Linked DNA regions of Homo sapiens. The protein of the gene in region 1 interacts with the protein of each later gene in a biochemical or structural test. Each region holds a gene or a part of one and is shown in the gene's direction. Other genes may lie near its edges.

Evidence for each region.
Region 2: of the proteins of PSRC1 (region 1) and AURKA, one has a biochemical effect on the other in vitro, tested with the Homo sapiens proteins (one study listed by BioGRID).
Region 3: of the proteins of PSRC1 (region 1) and ASB7, one has a biochemical effect on the other in vitro, tested with the Homo sapiens proteins (2 studies listed by BioGRID, with this or other methods).

The regions. Positions count from the first base shown.
Region 1 is NC_000001.11:109,280,138-109,287,233, reverse strand, and holds the start of PSRC1 (proline/serine-rich coiled-coil protein 1), read left to right. Parts: upstream 1-4,088; 5' UTR 4,089-4,171; exon of another isoform or gene 4,172-4,497; 5' UTR 4,498-4,535; coding exon 4,536-4,554; intron 4,555-4,658; coding exon 4,659-4,716; intron 4,717-5,173; coding exon 5,174-5,615; intron 5,616-5,982; coding exon 5,983-6,097; coding exon of another isoform or gene 6,098-6,187; coding exon 6,188-6,457; intron 6,458-6,744; coding exon 6,745-6,838; intron 6,839-7,077; coding exon 7,078-7,081; coding exon of another isoform or gene 7,082-7,096. UniProt on the Homo sapiens protein: Required for normal progression through mitosis. Required for normal congress of chromosomes at the metaphase plate, and for normal rate of chromosomal segregation during anaphase. Plays a role in the regulation of mitotic spindle dynamics.
Region 2 is NC_000020.11:56,382,186-56,389,302, reverse strand, and holds part of AURKA (aurora kinase A), read left to right. Parts: intron 1-518; exon of another isoform or gene 519-894; coding exon of another isoform or gene 895-991; intron 992-1,100; coding exon of another isoform or gene 1,101-1,105; coding exon 1,106-1,147; intron 1,148-2,769; coding exon 2,770-3,046; intron 3,047-4,978; coding exon 4,979-5,033; intron 5,034-6,126; coding exon 6,127-6,318; intron 6,319-7,117. UniProt on the Homo sapiens protein: Mitotic serine/threonine kinase that contributes to the regulation of cell cycle progression.
Region 3 is NC_000015.10:100,647,530-100,652,259, forward strand, and holds the end of ASB7 (ankyrin repeat and SOCS box protein 7), read left to right. Parts: intron 1-793; coding exon 794-933; 3' UTR 934-4,172; downstream 4,173-4,730. UniProt on the Homo sapiens protein: Probable substrate-recognition component of a SCF-like ECS (Elongin-Cullin-SOCS-box protein) E3 ubiquitin-protein ligase complex which mediates the ubiquitination and subsequent proteasomal degradation of target proteins.

The DNA.
Region 1 (7,096 bases):
AGAAAAATATATTTTGAGGTAAAATACTTTAATTTCTTTCAGGGCCTACTGTCTGTCATGTGATACTATACTAGAATCAGGCTGGAATTTGGCGTCTTATTGTCAGAGGCGTTTCGACCAGAGCAATTCCATCTTGAATAGGGGCTGGTTAAATAAGGCTGAGACCTACTGGGCTGCATTCCCAGACAGGAATTCTAAGTAACAAGATGAGATCCTAAGGAGGTCAGCACAAGATACAGGTCATAAAGACCTTGCTGATGAAACAAGTTGCAGTAAAGAAGCCGGCTAAAACCCACCAAAACCAAGACGATGATGAGAGTGACCTCACTGCTACACTCCCACTAGCACCATGACAGTTTACAAATGCCATGGCAACATCCAGAAGTTACCCTATATGGTCTAAAAAAAGGAGGCATGAATAATCCACCCCTTGTTTAGCATATCATCAAGAAATAATCATAAAAATGGGCAACCACCAGCCCTCGGGCTGCTCTGCCTATGGAGTAGCCATTCTTTATTCCTTTACTTTCTTAATCAACTTGCTTTCACTTTATGGACTCGCCTTGAATTCTTTCTCGTGTGAGATCCAAGAACCCTCACTTGGGGTCTGGATTGGGACCCCTTTCCAGTAATATTATTGCTACAAAAAGTCTGTTTCTGGCCAAGCGTGGTGGTTCATCCCTGTAATCCCAGCACTTTGGGAGGCCAAGGTGGGCGGATCACCTGAGGCAGTTCACGGCCATGGCGAAACACCATCTCTACTAAAAATACAAAAATTAGCTGGGCTTGGTGGCGTGTGCCTGTAATTCCAGCTACTCGGGAGGCTGAGACGGGAGAATCGCTTGAACTCAGGAGGCAGAGGTTGCAATGAGCTGAGATTGCACCACCGCACTCCAGCCTGGGCAACAAAGTGAGACTCCATCTCAAAAAAAAAAAAAAAAAAAAAAGTCTGTTTCCTTAGCCTTAAGATCTTTGTGGTTTTGTTGTTGTTATTGTTGTTGTTTGTTTTTTTTGTTTTTGAGACAGTGTCTCGTTCTGTCACCCAGACTGGAGTGCAGTGGCGTGATAGCTCACTGCGACCCCCGCCTCCTGGGTTCAAGCGATTCTCCTGCCTCAGTCTCCCAAGTAGCTGGGATTACAGGTGCCTACCACCATGCCCGGCTAATTTTTTTGTACTTTTAGTAGAGATGGTGTTTCACCACGTTGGCCAGGCTGGTCTTGAACTCCCGACCTCAGATGATCTGCCTGCCTCGGCCTCCCAAAGGGCTGGGATTACAGGCGTGAGCCACCGCCCCCTGGCCAGATCTCTGTTTTAATGTTAATGTTGGTCAGCTGTGCCTGATTCCCAAAGGGCAGAGAGTATAATGAGGCATGTCCAACCCCCACTTTCCATTATGGCCTGAACTAGTTTTCCAGGTTAAATCTGGAATGCCCTTGTCAGAGAGAAGGGGTCCATTCAGTTGGTTGGGGGGCTTAGAATTTTATTTTTGGTTTCCAGCTTCTTGGTCTCTGGTGGCATTTATTACAGTGACATCTCACTCCTGCAGACCTCACCACCTCAACGTCACAGCCAAAAACTAGAAAGTAAACAAGAAAGCCTATAAATGGCCAAAAAAATGGGCATGAACTCTGAGGACTAAAGCTCAGGTTCTGTTTACCAGAAAGCTCCTCAACCATTCCCTTAGGGCTTTTTCACTTTAAATATTCAGAACCTTTCTAGGAGCTCAGTTTATTACTGGAAAGGGGTCTTGATCCATCCAGACCCCAAGTGAGGATTCTTTGATCTTTCAAAAGAAAGAATTCAGGACGGGTCCACAGAGTAAAGTGAAAGTGAATTTATTAAGAAAGTAAAGGAATAAAAGAATGGCTACTCCATAGAGCAGCCCCAAGGGCTGCTGGTAAGCTATTTTTATGGTTATTTCTTGATTATATGCTAAACAAGGGGTGGATTATTCATAGGTTTTCTGGGAAAGGAGCATGATTTCCTGGAACTGAAGGCTCCTCTCCCTTTTATACCATATAGACGTTGCCATAGCATTTGTAAACTGTCAGGACGCTGGCAGGAGTGTCTTTTAGCATGCTAATGAATTACAACTAGCATATAATAAGCAGTGAGGATGACCAGCTGTCACTTTCTTTTTTTTTTTTTTTGAGACGGAGTCTCACTCTGTCGCCCAGGCTGGAGTGCGGAGGTGCGATCTCGGCTCACTGCAAGCTCTGCCTCCCAAGTTCACGCCATTCTCCTGCCTCAGCCTCCCGAGTAGTTGGGGCTACAGGGGCCCGCCACCACGCCCGGCTAATTTTTTGTATTTTTAGTACAGACGGGGTTTCACCGTGTTAGCCAGGATGGTCTGGATCTCCTGACCTCGTGATTCGCCCGCCTCGGCCTCCCAAAGTGCTGGGACTACAGGCGTGAGCCACCGCGCCTGGCCTACTTTCTTTACCATCTTGGTTTCTGGCAGATTTGGCCGGCTTCTTTACTGCACCGTTTTATTAGAGGGATGTTTGAGATCTGTATCTTGTGCGGACCTGCTGTCTCCTCCTGTTGTTACCAGAAAGGGGTCCGGATCCAGACCCCAAGAGAGGGTTCTTGGCCCTTGCATAGGAAATAATTCAGGGCAAGTCCATAAAGTGAAAGCAAGTTTATTAAGAAAGAAAAGGGATAAAGAATGCCTACTCCAGAGGCAGAGCAGCCCGGAGGGCTGCTGGTTGGCCATTTTTATGGTTATTTCTTGATTATATGCTAAACAAGGGATGAATTATTCATGAGTTTTCCGGGAAAGGGGTAGGCAACTCCCTGGAACTAAGAATTCCTCCCCTTTTTAGACCATGTAGGGTAATTTCCTGATGTTGCCATGGTATTTGTAAACCGTGGTGATGCTGTCTGGAGTGTCTTTTAGCATGCTAATACATTATAATTAGCGTATAATGAGGACTGAGGACCTCCAGAGGTCAGTTTCATCGCCATCTTGGTTTCGGTAGGTTTTGGCTGGCTTCTTTACCGCATGCTGTTTTACCACCAGGGTCTTTGTGACCTGTATCTTGTGCCAACCTCCTATCTCATCCTGTGACTTAGAATGCCTAACCTCCTAGGAATACAGCCCAGGTCTCAACCTTATTTTACCCAGCCTCTATTCCAGATGGAGTCGTTCTGGTTTGAAGCCTCTGACAAGTTCACTGGTGGCCCGGGCAACATTTAGAAACAACAGAGACAACACTCCTAACAAGTTGGTTTAAGCATTTTACAAATACTGCTTTTAGTTCAGAGGGGGCTACTTACAAACACCCCCTCTAAATCCCCTAAGGGCACACGGTAGAAAACGCCTTCATAATTATCCTCGTAACACCGTAACTGCGAGGACCAACATCCTCCTTTCACAGATAAGCGAAGAGAGGTGAAAAGAGGGCAAATATACTCAAGGCAGCCGCCTCTAAACCGAAACTTGGGTTCTGAGGTCAGTTAAACTTGGGTTGCATTTGAACCTAAGCCTGCCTGCGTGAAAAGCCCGTTGCTTTCTTTGCACCTCAGCTGCCTCAGGTTCTTGAAGAGGCGATGGAGGATGTACTTCTAAGAGAACCTCAATATACCTACAATATAAGTGTTTAGGTGCTCCCTTAACTTGGAAAAAACCCACAACTGAGGAACCTCGGCCAATGCGGCGCCTGCATATTGAGTGCGCCCAAGAAAACGAATTTCCTCCCGTAGAGCGTCGGTTAGCGGCCACGTTAGGCAGCACAACCGTTCTGGAGACTGGGTGCTCGGCGGCCCAGCAGAGGGAGCGGGGCGGGGCGCGAGTTCCATACTCGTGGGTCCGTTTCTTCCCTCCTGGCCAGCCGCGCTCTGCTCCCATCTGCCTACGGGAAAGAGAGTCTCCGCGCACGCGAGCACGCGCACTCGCAGCCTCAACCCTCGGCTCCGCCACCGGGATGCAGTCTTCTGGGAACGGTTCTCCCCCAGCCCCCACCGGCTGACTTCCGGCCGGCAGCTCCTCAGCCCCTCCCCCTGAGGATTCACCAATCACGGTGCGCGTGTGGCTTGAGTAGGTGGGGCCTGAGAGATTCGAAAGGAGCCCCGCCCCCTCGGAGCTGATTCCCGGGACTAGGTTGCGGGAGAAAGCCTGTTGCGTGGAAGATAAGGCGGCGCGGGAAGTGGACACAGGGTGGGCTGGAGGTGTGCTTCGCGTGTGATGCCAGGGGAGTGGAAAGGTGGCTTGGGGAGTGCAGAACCCTGAGGATAGTGGCGGGGAGGAAGATGGGGCGTGCAGGCCGCCCCCAGTGAGGAGAGGCCAGGATGCAGGGCGGCTCCAGGGCAATCTGGGCAGTTGGGGGAGCCCTCCGTATCGTTCCCGGAGGTAGCAGGAGTAGCTGTGCGGGAGGTGCCACTCCTGGGCGCTTGCTTTGCCTCCAGCATGACCCCCGACCCTGGCTTGCACCCTGAATCTAGCTGCGAGCCTTGGGCAGAATGGATACCTGAGGAAAGGTATGGTTTCTCTCCAGCTCAGATCTAACTGGACTCTCGCTCCTGCTGGCTGGACATGGAGGATTTGGAGGAAGGTAAGGAAAGGAGGGAGGGAAGAATGAAAGGGAGGAGTGAGACCCAGCGATGGAGAGCTGCATCAGGGACCCATGACTGGCTTTCATTCTTCTTTCCCCTTCAGATGTAAGGTTTATTGTGGATGAGACCTTGGACTTTGGGGGGCTGTCACCATCTGACAGGTACCAGCCTCTTTATCCCACTTATTTTCCTCTAACAGTACCTCTTTGTCTCGAATCCCTTACTGCTGAATTATTGGCTTGGGTTGGTAACTTAGCAAGGTTTGGCGCACTTGGGGCTGCTGGGCGGCTGGCTGACTCGGGCCTCTATGACACTATTGGTAGCGGGGAGAGAAGGGAGAAGCTGGAGTTAGATTTCAGGGTGTTAAGAAGAAGGATAAGTGGATTTGCTGCATCTCCATCCTGGCATCATTTCTGATGTCCGTAAATGCTAAAGGCCTATTAGGCCCCATAGAACCAGGTATCTCATCGCCCAGAGGCCACATCTCACAGCCAGCATGGGCATCGGGGCCTAGGGTCATGTCCCTGGCTCTGTTGTGGGGCTTTTATGCAGTCTCCCTTGCATAATCTCCTGTTCCCTTTTGCATGGGCATGATGCCTGGTTTGTTTCCTGTCTCAGCCGTGAGGAGGAAGACATAACAGTGTTGGTGACTCCAGAGAAACCACTTCGACGGGGCCTCTCCCACCGAAGTGACCCAAATGCAGTGGCACCTGCCCCCCAGGGTGTGAGGCTCAGCCTAGGCCCCCTCAGTCCAGAGAAGCTGGAGGAGATCCTCGATGAGGCCAACCGGCTGGCCGCTCAGCTGGAGCAGTGTGCCCTGCAGGATCGGGAGAGCGCAGGCGAGGGCCTGGGGCCTCGCCGAGTGAAGCCCAGTCCTCGGCGGGAGACCTTTGTGCTGAAGGATAGTCCTGTCCGAGACCTGCTGCCCACTGTGAACTCTTTGACGCGGAGCACCCCCTCCCCAAGCAGCCTGACGCCTCGACTCCGGAGTAATGATAGGAAGGGGTCAGTCAGGGCTCTCCGGGCTACATCTGGAAAGAGGCCCTCCAACATGAAGAGGGTGAGTTGAGAGAGTTGAGTTGGAGGTGTGCCCCAGACATGGTGTGTGCCATGATGCAGGGAGTGGTTTCCTTATTGGTAAAACAGGGATAGCATTTCTACATCTAGAATTGTTGGAATTAAATGAGAACCATGAAAAAAGAGAACCAAAACTCTTACCACAGTGTCTGAGTATATGTCTATGATAAACTCAATAAATGGTATTGGCAATAGTGATGGTGATGGTGATGTGGTGATGTTAGCAGCTAACTTCTACCCTTCCTTACTGGGATGTAGACAACTCTCCACCTCTATTTCTTAATTCCTTAAGCCACAGAACAGATATTTTTTCCACTCTAGTCTTTTTTCTCTCTCTCTTTGTGTTTCAGGAGTCACCCACTTGCAATCTGTTCCCTGCATCCAAAAGCCCAGCATCTTCTCCTCTTACCCGATCGACTCCCCCAGTCCGGGGGAGAGCCGGGCCCAGTGGGAGAGCAGCAGCCAGTGAGGAGACCAGAGCAGCCAAGTTGCGGGTGAGTGGGAGTGGGGAGTTTGTGGGATTGACCCTGAAATTTCTCCACCCCTCTCCACCAGGCCCACCCACCCCCATCAGATCCGTCCTGGCCCCACAGCCTTCTACCAGCAACTCTCAACGCCTGCCCCGGCCGCAGGGAGCAGCTGCTAAATCTTCCAGTCAACTGCCCATTCCCTCGGCCATCCCCAGGCCTGCCAGCCGAATGCCACTCACCAGCCGGAGTGTGCCACCTGGCAGAGGTGCCCTACCTCCGGATTCTCTGTCAACTCGAAAAGGGCTTCCAAGACCAAGCACTGCAGGACACAGAGTGCGGGAAAGTGGACACAAGGGTAAGAGGTCAGGAGGAAGAATGCCCGCCCTTGCCCAGCGTGTCCTCACCCTCCCAGAGCTGTCAACAGTGACCACTTTTGCCATCCTTATTGCAATTCAATTGGAAGATGGGGAGACTGAGTTACAGAGAGGATATGGGGCTGGACAGAGTCTGAGTCTTAGTTTTCAAATACCTCATGGTCAGGGGGAGAGTACTAATCCCACACTCGCTCCCTTCATCCAGTATTTCTTTTCGAGGTCAGTTAAACTTGCTGCTAACTCATTTCTTTTGTTAACCCCCATGAAGTTCCTGTTTCCCAGCGACTAAATCTTCCTGTCATGGGTGCCACTCGCAGCAATCTGCAGCCCCCCAGGAAAGTGGCAGTCCCAGGACCTACCAGGTCAGTCTGGTCCTCCCTTGCCCATCCTGTCTCCCTACCCCGCCATCATCTGGGATTCCAAGCTGTTATGCACATCAGCCCTGAATTTTGTATGGAAAGATGGAGAGAGGAGGGGAGCCTGGGGCAGGGGAAGGGGGATCCCATTTCTTCCCACCCTGAGGAGCTTGAATTCTGCTGGGTGACAAATGGGCTTGAGGAAGAAGGGCATTTTAAAGCAGTTATTCCTTCTATTTCTTTAGGTAAAGAGATCAGGACAGC
Region 2 (7,117 bases), on another chromosome or scaffold:
ACTTTGAGTGGTCCTCATGAAGGCATTTAGAGCTGAGGCACTGGGTGATATGGATCCCTGGTGAAGGTGTAGATGGAGAAGTGGAGGGTCCAGGGACTCGTTCTTGAGTCACCCCAGACCCTTGATCTGGCAAAAATGAGACTGACCCAGCAAGGAGGGAAAGACAGGACGACTAGGTGGTAGATAAACCTGGAAGTGAAGTGAAGAAAAAAGTGTAAGATGTGATCAACCTTGTCAGATTCTGCTGAGGATGCAAGTACGGGGAAGGTGGAATTGACCCTTGGGTTTGGCAGCAGTAGGTGTCAGCCATGAGCCTGACAATGTGGTGGAGACAAAAAAGCCAGGTGGGGATGGGCTCAGGGGAGGGGAGAGGAGCAGTAGAGGTGGCAAGTGTGGACGGTTCTTCTGGAGCTTTGCTGTTGGAGAGGAGGGGGTCATTGTTAGCAACGATAATAGAATAAAGAGGACTTTTATTTTATTTTATTGTTTTGAGACGAAGTCTCGCTCTTTTCCCATAGGCTGGAGTGCAATGGTGTGATCTCAGCTCACTGCAACCTCTGCTTCCTGGGTTTAAGTGATTCTCCTGCCTCAGCCTCCCGAGTAGCTGGGATTACAGGTGACTGCCACCACGCTCAGCTAAGTTTTGTATTTTTAGTAGAGACGGGGTTTCACCATGTTGGCCAGGCTGGTCTCGAACTCTTGACCTCAGGTGATCCGCCCACCTCGGCCTCCCAAAATGCTGGGATTACAGGTGTAAGCCACCATGCCCGGCCTAAAGAGGACTTTTTTAAGGTAGCAGGTATGCCAGTAGGCTGCACAGGGATGGAAGTGATCCATTAGAGGAGAGATGATGGAGCAGCAAGACCATCAGGAGTGAAGACTCCGTGACAGAGGATGGGACGCAGTGCCCAAGGGGAGGTTGGCCTTGCAGGGAAAGCACATGCCTGTCCCTCCCTCATTAGCTTCATTTGGACAAAACATGTAAAATCCGGTGTGTTGTGGAGGCCTTTTGATTGGGGAACTGTAACGCTGCCTATCGAGCAACAGCACTTTAAGCAGGTGGCTTTGTTCAAATTAAAGGTTCTTCTTTTTCTTTTCAGGCATCATGGACCGATCTAAAGAAAACTGCATTTCAGGACCTGTTAAGGTAAATTGAATAATCTGTAATCTCATTCACATTTATAAACCCACATGGAGGTTGGTCTTGTCGGGAATTCTTTCCGCCTTTACTTTGGATTTAAATTTAGATCCCTTACTGTGATCCTGGATATGAATTAGTCACTTTTCTCGTGTTCAGTAACATTTTGCTGCTTCTTAGAGTAGCTTTTTTGTTCTGCTTTGTCTTATAATCGGCTGCTTAAGTTTCTATATCCCTCCACTGTATGCAGGATAATAGTAATAATGCATCTGGCAGGAGTTCAAAACTTTTAAAATTGGCCATAAATATAAAATAATTAGAAAAAGGCTACCTTGAATTACTGTATTTGATTCTAAGTTCCTATGATAACGGCCATTTAAAAAATTGCTCTATATTTAAAATGTTTCTTTTTATTTGTCTTTGTCTGAATGCCTGCTGCGTTGTGGACAGTGTGCTAATTTCAGGAGTAACTGACTTTGTATTTGGAAGTCTTAACACCCTCTCTTTGTAGAGCACTCATACCGTTGAGCTGGGGATGGACTTTGAGGCTTTCATTTCTAGCACTTGTCCCTCACTTACAATGAGCTGTTGAAGCTGAAGGAAATCTCATCCCTCCTACCCCTTTTAGTTTGATTAGCTGAGGGTGTTAGAGTTAACTTAACAATTTAAGGTTGTAATACAGTACTTACAGGCGTATAAATAATACATTTCAAGGCTGGGCGCGGTGGCTCACGCCTGTAATCCCAGCACTTTGGGAGACCAAGGAGAGTGGATCACAAGGTCAGGAGTTCAAGACCGGCCTGGCCAAGATGGTGAAACCCTGTTTCTACTAAAAATACAAAAAATTAGCCAGGCGTGGTGGCAGGCGCCTGTCGTCCCAGCTGCTTGGGAGGCTGAGGCAGAGAATTGCTTGAACCTGGGAGGCAGAGGTTGCAGTGAGCCGAGATCATGCCACTGCACTCCAGTCTGGGTGACAGAGCAAGACTCCATCTCAAAAATAATAATAATAATACATTTTAGTAGTAACTTTGTGAAGTGTCTACATTTGTTTCCTCTTTGTCAGTTTTTTGCTCAATTCCATTTTGTCAATACTTGGAAAATGAAACATTGGTTAATCAATAGTACAGTAATAAGCTTATTGTGGAAAATCTTCGATATATGAAAACTTAGACTCTTCTAAAACTTCATGAAGATAATACCACTGTTGAACGTTTTGACGTATTTTTTTTTGGTCTTTTTCTTAAACGTATATTATCAAAGAAATTTCAATGGAACTGAGATTTTGGCATAAAGTTTTTGTATCATAGCTTTTTGCCAAATAGCAATGTAGTGTCTATTTCCAAATTATTGAGAAATTTTAGAAAGTGTCTCCTTCATTAATGGATATTTGTTAATAAAGCATGATTTTTAGGGGTGAGGAATTGGAGGGGATAGAAGGTATCATTCAGGTATTCTTAGCCACATACTAACTATCCTCTGGAGGTACTGATTAAAATACCTTTTCACCTTCCATCTCTTATCAGTGACATTCATTATTTTGCTATACTAGAGAACAAACTTTGTGAAATTCTCAATATATTCATCTTTTGCTTTCATGAATGCCAGAAAGTTTATTTTCTCTTCCATTCTAGGCTACAGCTCCAGTTGGAGGTCCAAAACGTGTTCTCGTGACTCAGCAATTTCCTTGTCAGAATCCATTACCTGTAAATAGTGGCCAGGCTCAGCGGGTCTTGTGTCCTTCAAATTCTTCCCAGCGCATTCCTTTGCAAGCACAAAAGCTTGTCTCCAGTCACAAGCCGGTTCAGAATCAGAAGCAGAAGCAATTGCAGGCAACCAGTGTACCTCATCCTGTCTCCAGGCCACTGAATAACACCCAAAAGAGCAAGCAGCCCCTGCCATCGGCACCTGGTAAACTAGCTTTTGAGACTCATTGGATAGTCCTTCTTTGTCGTCGTTGCTAAAAAAGCCAGTGTATATACTTGCACTTATTGTTTGGAGCCTTAGCTTTTATATCTGTTGAGGATGGGGAGAAAATATGGTGTCTGGGTTGAAGTAACAGTGTCTGCCCATGGGCCAGACCTATGCTAAAAATACAGACCTGATTCTCACCCTCTTGGAAGAGTTGGGCACCCAGGGAGGACACAGCATAAATTGGTGTCCTTTTGATTGCTTGTTACTGAGTCTGGATGTAGGGTGCTTGCAGTAAGTGACTTGAAGGGACTGAGATCTAAAGTGTGGGGGAAATCCAGAGAAGTGGGTGAACTGAGGCAGGCTGCGGTGAGGTCACCATGGGCATTGCTGGCCATGTTAAGGAATGGGGCCTCATCTCTAGGGCATTTGGAAGCTACTGAAGCTTTTTTGAACTCAGAAGGGAACTCTGCCTTTTAGAAAGTTTACTGTGGAAGGCCAGGCGCAGTGGCTCACGCCTGTAATCCCAGCGCTTTGGGAGACCGAGGCAGGTGGATCACCTGAGGTCAGGAGTTGGAGACCAGTCTGACCAACATGGAGAAACCCTGTCTCTACTAAAAATACAAAATTAGCCAGGCGTGGTGGTGCACGCCTGTAATCCCAGCTACTCAGGAGGCTGAGGCAGGAGAATGGCTTGAACCCAGGAGGTGGAGGTTGTGGTGAGCCGAGATTGTGCCATTGCATTCTAGCCTGGGCAACAAGAGCAAAATTCTATCTCAAAAAAAAAAAAAAAATTTACTGTGGAAGTACTGAATAAATTGGAGTAGAACGCTGGATTTAGGAGTACCAGACAGGAAGGAGGTTGAGGTCAGAGATGGCAATAACCTGCTCTGTGTGGAGCAGAGTGGATGCAATTATTTACCAACTGTTGAGTGCTCATTCCCTGCAGGCTCTGAGATAAGTGCGTGCTTCATCCACGTCATCTCTTTCAATCTTCGTAACCACTTCATGAAGGTAGCCAGTTATTAACTCAGTTTTACAGAGGAGGAAGCTAAGACTCAGAAGCAGTTAACTTATCCAAAGACAAGCCAGGATGGAGAGGTGCACACAAATTTGAGAGCTCATTTACGATGCAGACTCATTAGAACTGGGCAATAAATTGTACCTGAAAGATGAATAAAGAGGAGTTAGGGATGGTGATTAGATTGATATTAATTGAGTGAGTGTCCTGGGGGTTGAGGGGTGCACATGTGACAGGGGCATCTGGAGGAAGAGTTTGGACCAGCATCCAGATATCTGAGCAGAGCATTGTGTGCTGTTCGAGTTTGCTATGTTGGAGACAGACCAGTGGAAATGTTTCATATGTCCTTGTGGCTGATGAAATAGTTACCCCAGTCCTCTGCTGCACAACTGTTCATTGTGCATTTTGCTGAATTGGTGGCTTTTATTTTTATATTTCCCCTTGGCAGCTAATATAAATGGAGGGTGGCTGGCTTATGTTTTGCTACATGTTGGTGATAATTCGTATGTAGGGTATGGACTGTTGGCTGGCCCACCTAGTAAGGGGAAAAAGGTGACGAGTTGGCAGCTCGTCATGCATGGGAAGATTGGTACTTCTGCCACAAAAGCTCTTCTTTGGAAACTGAGGCTTCAGAAGAGCCTGCATAGTCTGCCTTTAATTTATCAGAGAAGGGCCTGTCTATATATACGTCTGCTCATCTTTAGAAATTCTATAAAGGCTTCACATGATGGAAGTCAGGGTGTAGTAGTCCTTTTTTTCTATAAGGAAAACTTTAAAAAAAAAAAACAGATTTATCATTCTTGACATACCATTAATATTTTGGTGACCAATTCTTTGATTCACCTCTATTCACAGCTTAGCTTATCCTATATAGTTATTCTAAAAACAGGTTTTTAACTTATTCCATATAGAAAATAATCCTGAGGAGGAACTGGCATCAAAACAGAAAAATGAAGAATCAAAAAAGTAAGCTTTCTTATTTACAAAGTTCTGTACTGTTCTACTAGAATATATTATTTCGTTGCAAATTTCGTTGTGGGAACTCTGGGGAAAAAAATGAGGCCTTTATTTGCATTTAGAGGATATAAATGTTTCCAGATTTCCAATCTTAAAAAAAATGGAATTTTGTGTAATGAGGTATTTTACTAGGAACTCAAGTGCTTTAAAAAATGGCTTTCAAATTTAGAAAAAGCTTGTATGAATCTTTTATAGAAATGTGTGGAAGTTCCTCTCTGTCCTTAGAAATAACCACTACATATGGTTTATGCGTCTGTACTTTTTTATTGTACAAAAGTGCAAGTTTTTAAAAAATAGAATATGTTGCAGAACTATATACTCATATATGACTGAGGGTTTTGACAGTATTATAGTTTTAGTTCTTTATTGTAAAGGTTGGCTGTAATGTCTTCCCCAGGGCTTTTCTAAAAGCCTCCTCTCAGTCTCTGAACTATCTGGACTCTAGAATGTACCGGGAGGAGCGAGGAATGAACCCACAGACTCTTTTGCTTTTAGCGGTCTAACAGAGGCTAAGAGTCTAAATCCACTGGTTCTCATGCCCCAGCTAGCCTGTGGGCTCCATCCCGCTTCCATTAGTAACAGTGGCTCTGTCTCCACCACCAGAGTGGTTCTCCACCCAGAGAGAATTAGCACCTCTGGGACTGGAGGGAGCAGCTGGGGTTAGTTTGAAACATGCCCCCAGATGGTCTGGAAGCATTCCTCCCTCTCTGGTCACTTATCCTTTTTGTGGTCTTCAGCGTTGTCATGGCCCTGTTCCTCTGAGCATAGTACGGGCTTGGGACATTTCCCATAGAGTGCTTCAGGTCTAAAACCCGAGACTGCTCCTTGTCACTGACTCTCACACCTGACGGCAGCTAGGGACGTCAGGGTTTCATGTCGTGGCAGCTCTTTGATAGTGGTTATTGCCTTGGTTCTTGCTGAGGATGCATATTGAGTGAAGTTGGAATACGAAATTATTTGTAGAATGTGTCTGCTACTCATTGAAAATTTGTTAGAAAAGCTTTGTTTTCTTCACATTCTAAAGTGTTCAAATTCCTCCTAGGAGGCAGTGGGCTTTGGAAGACTTTGAAATTGGTCGCCCTCTGGGTAAAGGAAAGTTTGGTAATGTTTATTTGGCAAGAGAAAAGCAAAGCAAGTTTATTCTGGCTCTTAAAGTGTTATTTAAAGCTCAGCTGGAGAAAGCCGGAGTGGAGCATCAGCTCAGAAGAGAAGTAGAAATACAGTCCCACCTTCGGTGAGTTTTCAGGTTCATGTTCAAAAGAATGTTCACCAATGCTGCACCCCTCCCCCTCCTGTAATGTCAGCCTCCCACTGCCCAGGTCCCTTCACTCCCTCTTACGAGGCACTGCCTTCAAATGCATGGCCCCGTTCCTCACCTCCCCCTCCCCTATGAAAAAGATTAGATAAGCTTCTGTACTGCACTGGGTTATAAGCATTCTCCTGTGATTCTCCCATGCTCTGCATGTTAAAATAAAATTGTATTCCTTTTTTTTTTTTTAAGTATAAATTTATTTTTTAGAGGGCCTGCTTTTCATAGTACCACAAAAAATGATTAAATTTGTCATCTTTCAAAGAGCACTTAAGTGCTCTGATCCTGGAAAAATCACTTGAGGATTTAATGTTTTGTTAATAGAATAGTTTATATGGGCAAGTCTTTCTGGTGGACAGTGAAGGGGAATGGCACCCCTTATTCTGAGGTATGCAGGAATTGCGAGCAGCTACCTGCAGGTTGACTACGGCTGGTGGGTTTTTGTTTTTCCTTTTTTTCTTTCAGTGTTTTTCAAATTTGAATCAGATGCTAATACTTCAAGTCTGGCCACATCAGGCCTGGTGTGTCTCTGCCTGGCAACACCTGGCTGGGGCTGGGAGGGGCAGGCATCTCACATGGGCTGTGCTTCCCATTGCCTGCTTCCCGCTGGCCACAGTCTGCACCTGCCCAGTCTGCTCAGCACCCATCTACTGCCATTACTGATCACTGCTTTTATCTGTCACAGTGTCTGGGTGTCAAACTACTGTGGCAATGCCATGTCCTT
Region 3 (4,730 bases), on another chromosome or scaffold:
TTGTAAAACAAAATATTCCAAAGGGAAAGAAATAGGATTTTGTGATTTTTCTTTTGAATTGAGATATAACGGGTTTTTATTGGCAAGTGATCAGGGTGTGGAAGCTTGAAGCGATGTAGATTCAGAATACCTTGAGGCGCTTTTTCACACCCCCTTCTGCTGCACTCCTCAACTGTCAGCCTTACAACCAAGGTTCTGCTGTGTTCAGAATCACGGAAAACAGGTGAGCAGATCTGGAAAGCTTGTTTGGAAAGCTCCACAGAGACCGTGGTGGGTGTCCGGGCTCCAGTGTCCTAGACCCAGAGCTGAAAGGGAGGCTCACAATAGGGGACATCTCTTTCAGTCCCCACACTTTTCAGATTGAGAAGCCAAGGCTCAGAGGAATGATTGGCTCACAGTGGCTCACCCAGCGTGAGAGAGACCTAGTCAGGACGAGAACCAGAATTTTCCTGATTTATAACAGAAAGGATATGAGGCTTAGAATCAAAACTGTTTTTGGTCTCAGTTGAAAGCCTTAATTGGTTGTCTGATATTAAGCAACTTGTTTACATCTGATACTCAGTTTTCTTATTGGTAAAATGGAGTTGAAAATATCCACCATCCCACGGTTGTGAAAAGGATCAAATAAGGCATCGCATGAAGGTCCTAGGACACTTTGAGTTGGTATCTTTCCGGTCCTTTGCATGTCAAGTCCATAGAGAGAACTTCCAGGGAAATGAACAGTTCTTTTCAAAAGTGCCTTAAATATTGTGCTTTGTGGCTTTGTAACATTTTCTTTTTTCTGTCTTTTTAGGACAGCCCAGAAACTTGCAGGACCTGTGCCGAATTAAAATTCGACAATGTATAGGCCTTCAAAACCTAAAGCTACTTGATGAACTACCAATTGCCAAGGTCATGAAAGACTACTTAAAACACAAATTTGATGATATCTGATATGCCAGAACTGTGAGCAAGATTAGGAGTTCTATTCTAGATACTTAAAAGGCTTTTTGCCTTGCACAAAGTATATCCTATGCAATTTCTGATTTGCTGTGAAATCAGAAAGCAGGTATACACTTTTGGGTTTTCTGTTTGTTTGGTTGGTTTTCATTGTAGGGGAGGGATTTTTTATATATATATAAAAACACACACCACATGCTTGAAGGTCTTAATTTGGTTTCTTGGTCCAAGTTTAAGAGGTCCAAGCTTTGTATACAATACTGCATTTAGAAAAATTGTCTTTTCTTAAATGACACAAGCAGGTTTAGAGTGGAGAATTTACCCTTTCCAAATTTATGGTTCCTTGGTAAGCACGGTATTCTAAACCAGCAGAGCACTTGTTAACGTTTGGAGGCACAGTTTCACCCAGGGCGACCCTGGGTTCTTTTGGAAAATGCCCTAAGAAATGTTTGAAGTAACGCTGTCACCTCATTCATTTTTAATGAGTACAAACTGGCCGTTTCAAACTGTTCTTTTTCCTAATTAATGTAGCTTTCGGATGACATAAATCCAGTATCTCTGCTTATGACATAAATCCAGTACCTCTGCTTTTCTTTTGCTGTGCTCTTGTTTTTAACTTATTTTTTTTTTAACAACTGTAGTACACTACCCTGAGACACTGCATCTCGATTTCTATCTCTAGTTAGAGTTGTACTTTTAAAAAAATTAACGGGAAAGAAAATAACTTTGTGAAGCCAGTGTATTCTGTTTTTAAAACTGTGCCTGCAGTGCAATACTCCTTCTGGTGTATTTTATCCATTATTTCACTTGCTGGTCGTCATTTCACAGCCAGCTTTGACATGCCCGTGAGGACAGGAGCCGCCGCTTCAGTTGTCACTGCAGAGCCATCGTATGTCAGTTGCAATTTCCATCTGAAGCTATGTCTTTGACTTCACTTTAAGCAGAAAATTTTGTACCCTGGTGGTCGAGTCTTCCCTTAAAAATTGTTAAATCATTTGGCTTTAATGGTTCAATAATTTGGGGTGGCTTCATGGTGTTTCTTTTCTTCCCAGTTTAAAAAAAAAACTTTTTAAGCGTAAAATCTTTAAGGGGTACACATTTATAAGTCTGGCTAATTTCTAATATGCTAATTAAACATTTCCCATTTTAAGGTTATATACAGTGAGGCTCTTCAGGACAATTATTTTCTGGGTTGATTGGGCATATGTTTGCCGTGTAAACACGGATATGATAAAGTGTCAGTAACAATGGAAAAGGTCCCAGAGGCATTAGGCATCTAAGAGGATGCCCTCAGAAACGTATTCTGGCTTGATTTGTGTTATTAACTTCAGAAGAACCTTTTCAAATGTCCCAGTATCGTTCTTAGTGCTTTGGGAAAAAATATTTAACACACTGTTAATAAATTTGTTATCAGAAGTTTACAAGACGAAGGGCTTCTCTCGTCTGAATTTCTAGATTTAAGTCATGAAGTGTAAAACTGTTTCACCCAGAAGTGTAACTAAGCAGAACTAGGAGTTTTCTCTGGCTTCACCTTTTTCAGAGCCAGCAGTGCTGTTTTCTCAAGCACAGCGTTTGCTCTTAGACTCTGATCTGCTTGTGCCTAAGCATTGCACAGGTTTCCGAAGACGGGCAGCTTCAGAGAAGAGGATTATTCGGGAGATTGCTGGTGTGGCCCATAGACTCTTTGGCATAGACTCTTTCGCAGGCAGCCACTCTGAGTGTGGCCAGTTCTATAACCATCCCCAAACTAGCTGGAGCCTGATGGATAGGAACGGGTAGTCTGTCCTCTTCCCCATAAAAATGTTCCAAAAAGTTATCTCCAGAGAGAGTCCCTTATGAAGACAGTTGCCAAGCTGTATTCTCATTCTTTAAACCAATACCCAGGTCAGGGCTAGTTCACACTAGCACTGTTAGGGACATGGTGTGGCTAGAAATGAATTGAGTGTGACTTCTCCCTACAACCCCAGGCCCAGGGATAGGAGGAGGCAGAGGGGTGCCTGGAGTTTCTGCACTCTCATCAGTGATGTTCATGTTACACTTGCACAAGGGCTGATTTCCACGTATGTGTGTGTTAATTTATTCACTTAGTTTCAAAAGATTTTCTCTCCCCAGCCATTCAGAGGTTTCCAAACTAAGCCACTGAGTTTGAGTCAGGGAATTCCACGTAAAAAGATCAGATTAAGGTAAATTCTTTGTTCTGTATTGCTGCTGTGACTTCAGAAAAAAAAAATTATGAGAGCTCTTCCTGGAATTTTGAAATTTCTATTTAATGAAGAAGTGTATAATTCCATTATTTATTGTTTGAGGTTTGATTTATCTGGAAGCTTAAAAAGAATGTTTTATTTTTGTTGTTAATAAAATCCCAATCACATTTCACAATAACTAAAATGTCTCCAGGTGGGTTACTGGTAGATGATAGTGGTGACACCTGCAGGTCTGCATTTGAATTGGATTCACAGAGAAGCATTCCATGGTCACATAATGAATAGGGAGAACAGATATTTTCAGAAAAATCAACCGATTGTTTTTTCCAGAAACAGAACAGAAAATGTTCAGAATATTTTCAAATTTGTCAGATTCTTTTATGTTTCCTTTGAAATTTATTATTTAAGCCTATTACTAAACCTTTATAAAAATATATTTGGCAAATACACCAAAGAAACCAGCTTACAAAAGATTATGATCATTAATGAACTGCAAACCTCATCTTTCGAAAACAAGGTTTTGTGTTTTTTTTTTTTTGTAAATATTTGTGTTTATAAATGTACAGCAGAGTAAGAGTGTTTTTTAGATTATTTAATTCCCATATTTCTAAACTATTTACTACACAGTAATCCATGCCTGTTAGTTTGGAGGACTTGACTGTCTCATTTTTTAATTCATTGTCAGTCATGCTTGGAACAGCATTTCCACTAGAGAATCCAGCGTTCTGGCAGTAGCAAGAGTACACATCTGGAGCATGAGGGACTCTAGCATGACTCGTCAGATGCACACCCCAAGAGACAAGAATGTGTAGTTTAATGACCGGCGTGGACCATACGAAATTGAGATTCTAACTTTCCTGCAGGAGTGCTCATGAGCCCAGAATGTGATTGGGATAAGGCCATTTGCCCACAAATTTAGCTTTCATGTAACTCCTAGTGTGTTATATCATAATGTATTTTGTTCTTCCTTTTTAATGTAAGTTTTGCTTTGGGTCAATTTGAATTAAAAAAATCAAATCTGATTTAAAACATGTTGGAGTTGTATTTTATTTCCAGTCTACCTTAAGTTTTTAATATGTCCAGCTATTTGGTGAAAATAAATAAAACTCTATCCTTCCTTCATCAGCATTTTAGATCGCTGGGAGTTGTTTAAGAATATGATGATGTGGAAAACAATACCACTCTCCATTGTCACCAGATAAGCCATTTCTTACCCTCCTTTAATTTGTTCAATGCATTCTGCAAATACCCACCAACAAAAGATGATCACAGTGTTGAGTGTATCGACCCAGCACTGGGCCTTCTTGGGCCGTAATCGCCACCTGCCCCGTGCGTGCCACACCTTGACTCACGACAGGGTTTAGACCACAGCGCTTCTAAACGTAGGACAGCATGCAGTCAAAGCAATGCATCTGACGGAGTTACCCTGCAGGAGATGAAGCAAAACAACTTTGATTTCACATTTCCTCTATAAAACATAAGCACAGCTTGATTCAGGAGAGACCCGAAGTGAATGTGGATGATGGTGTGGCACTAAGAGAAAGGGAAGAGGGACTGCTTAGCACCCCGTGCAGAGATGGGATGGTT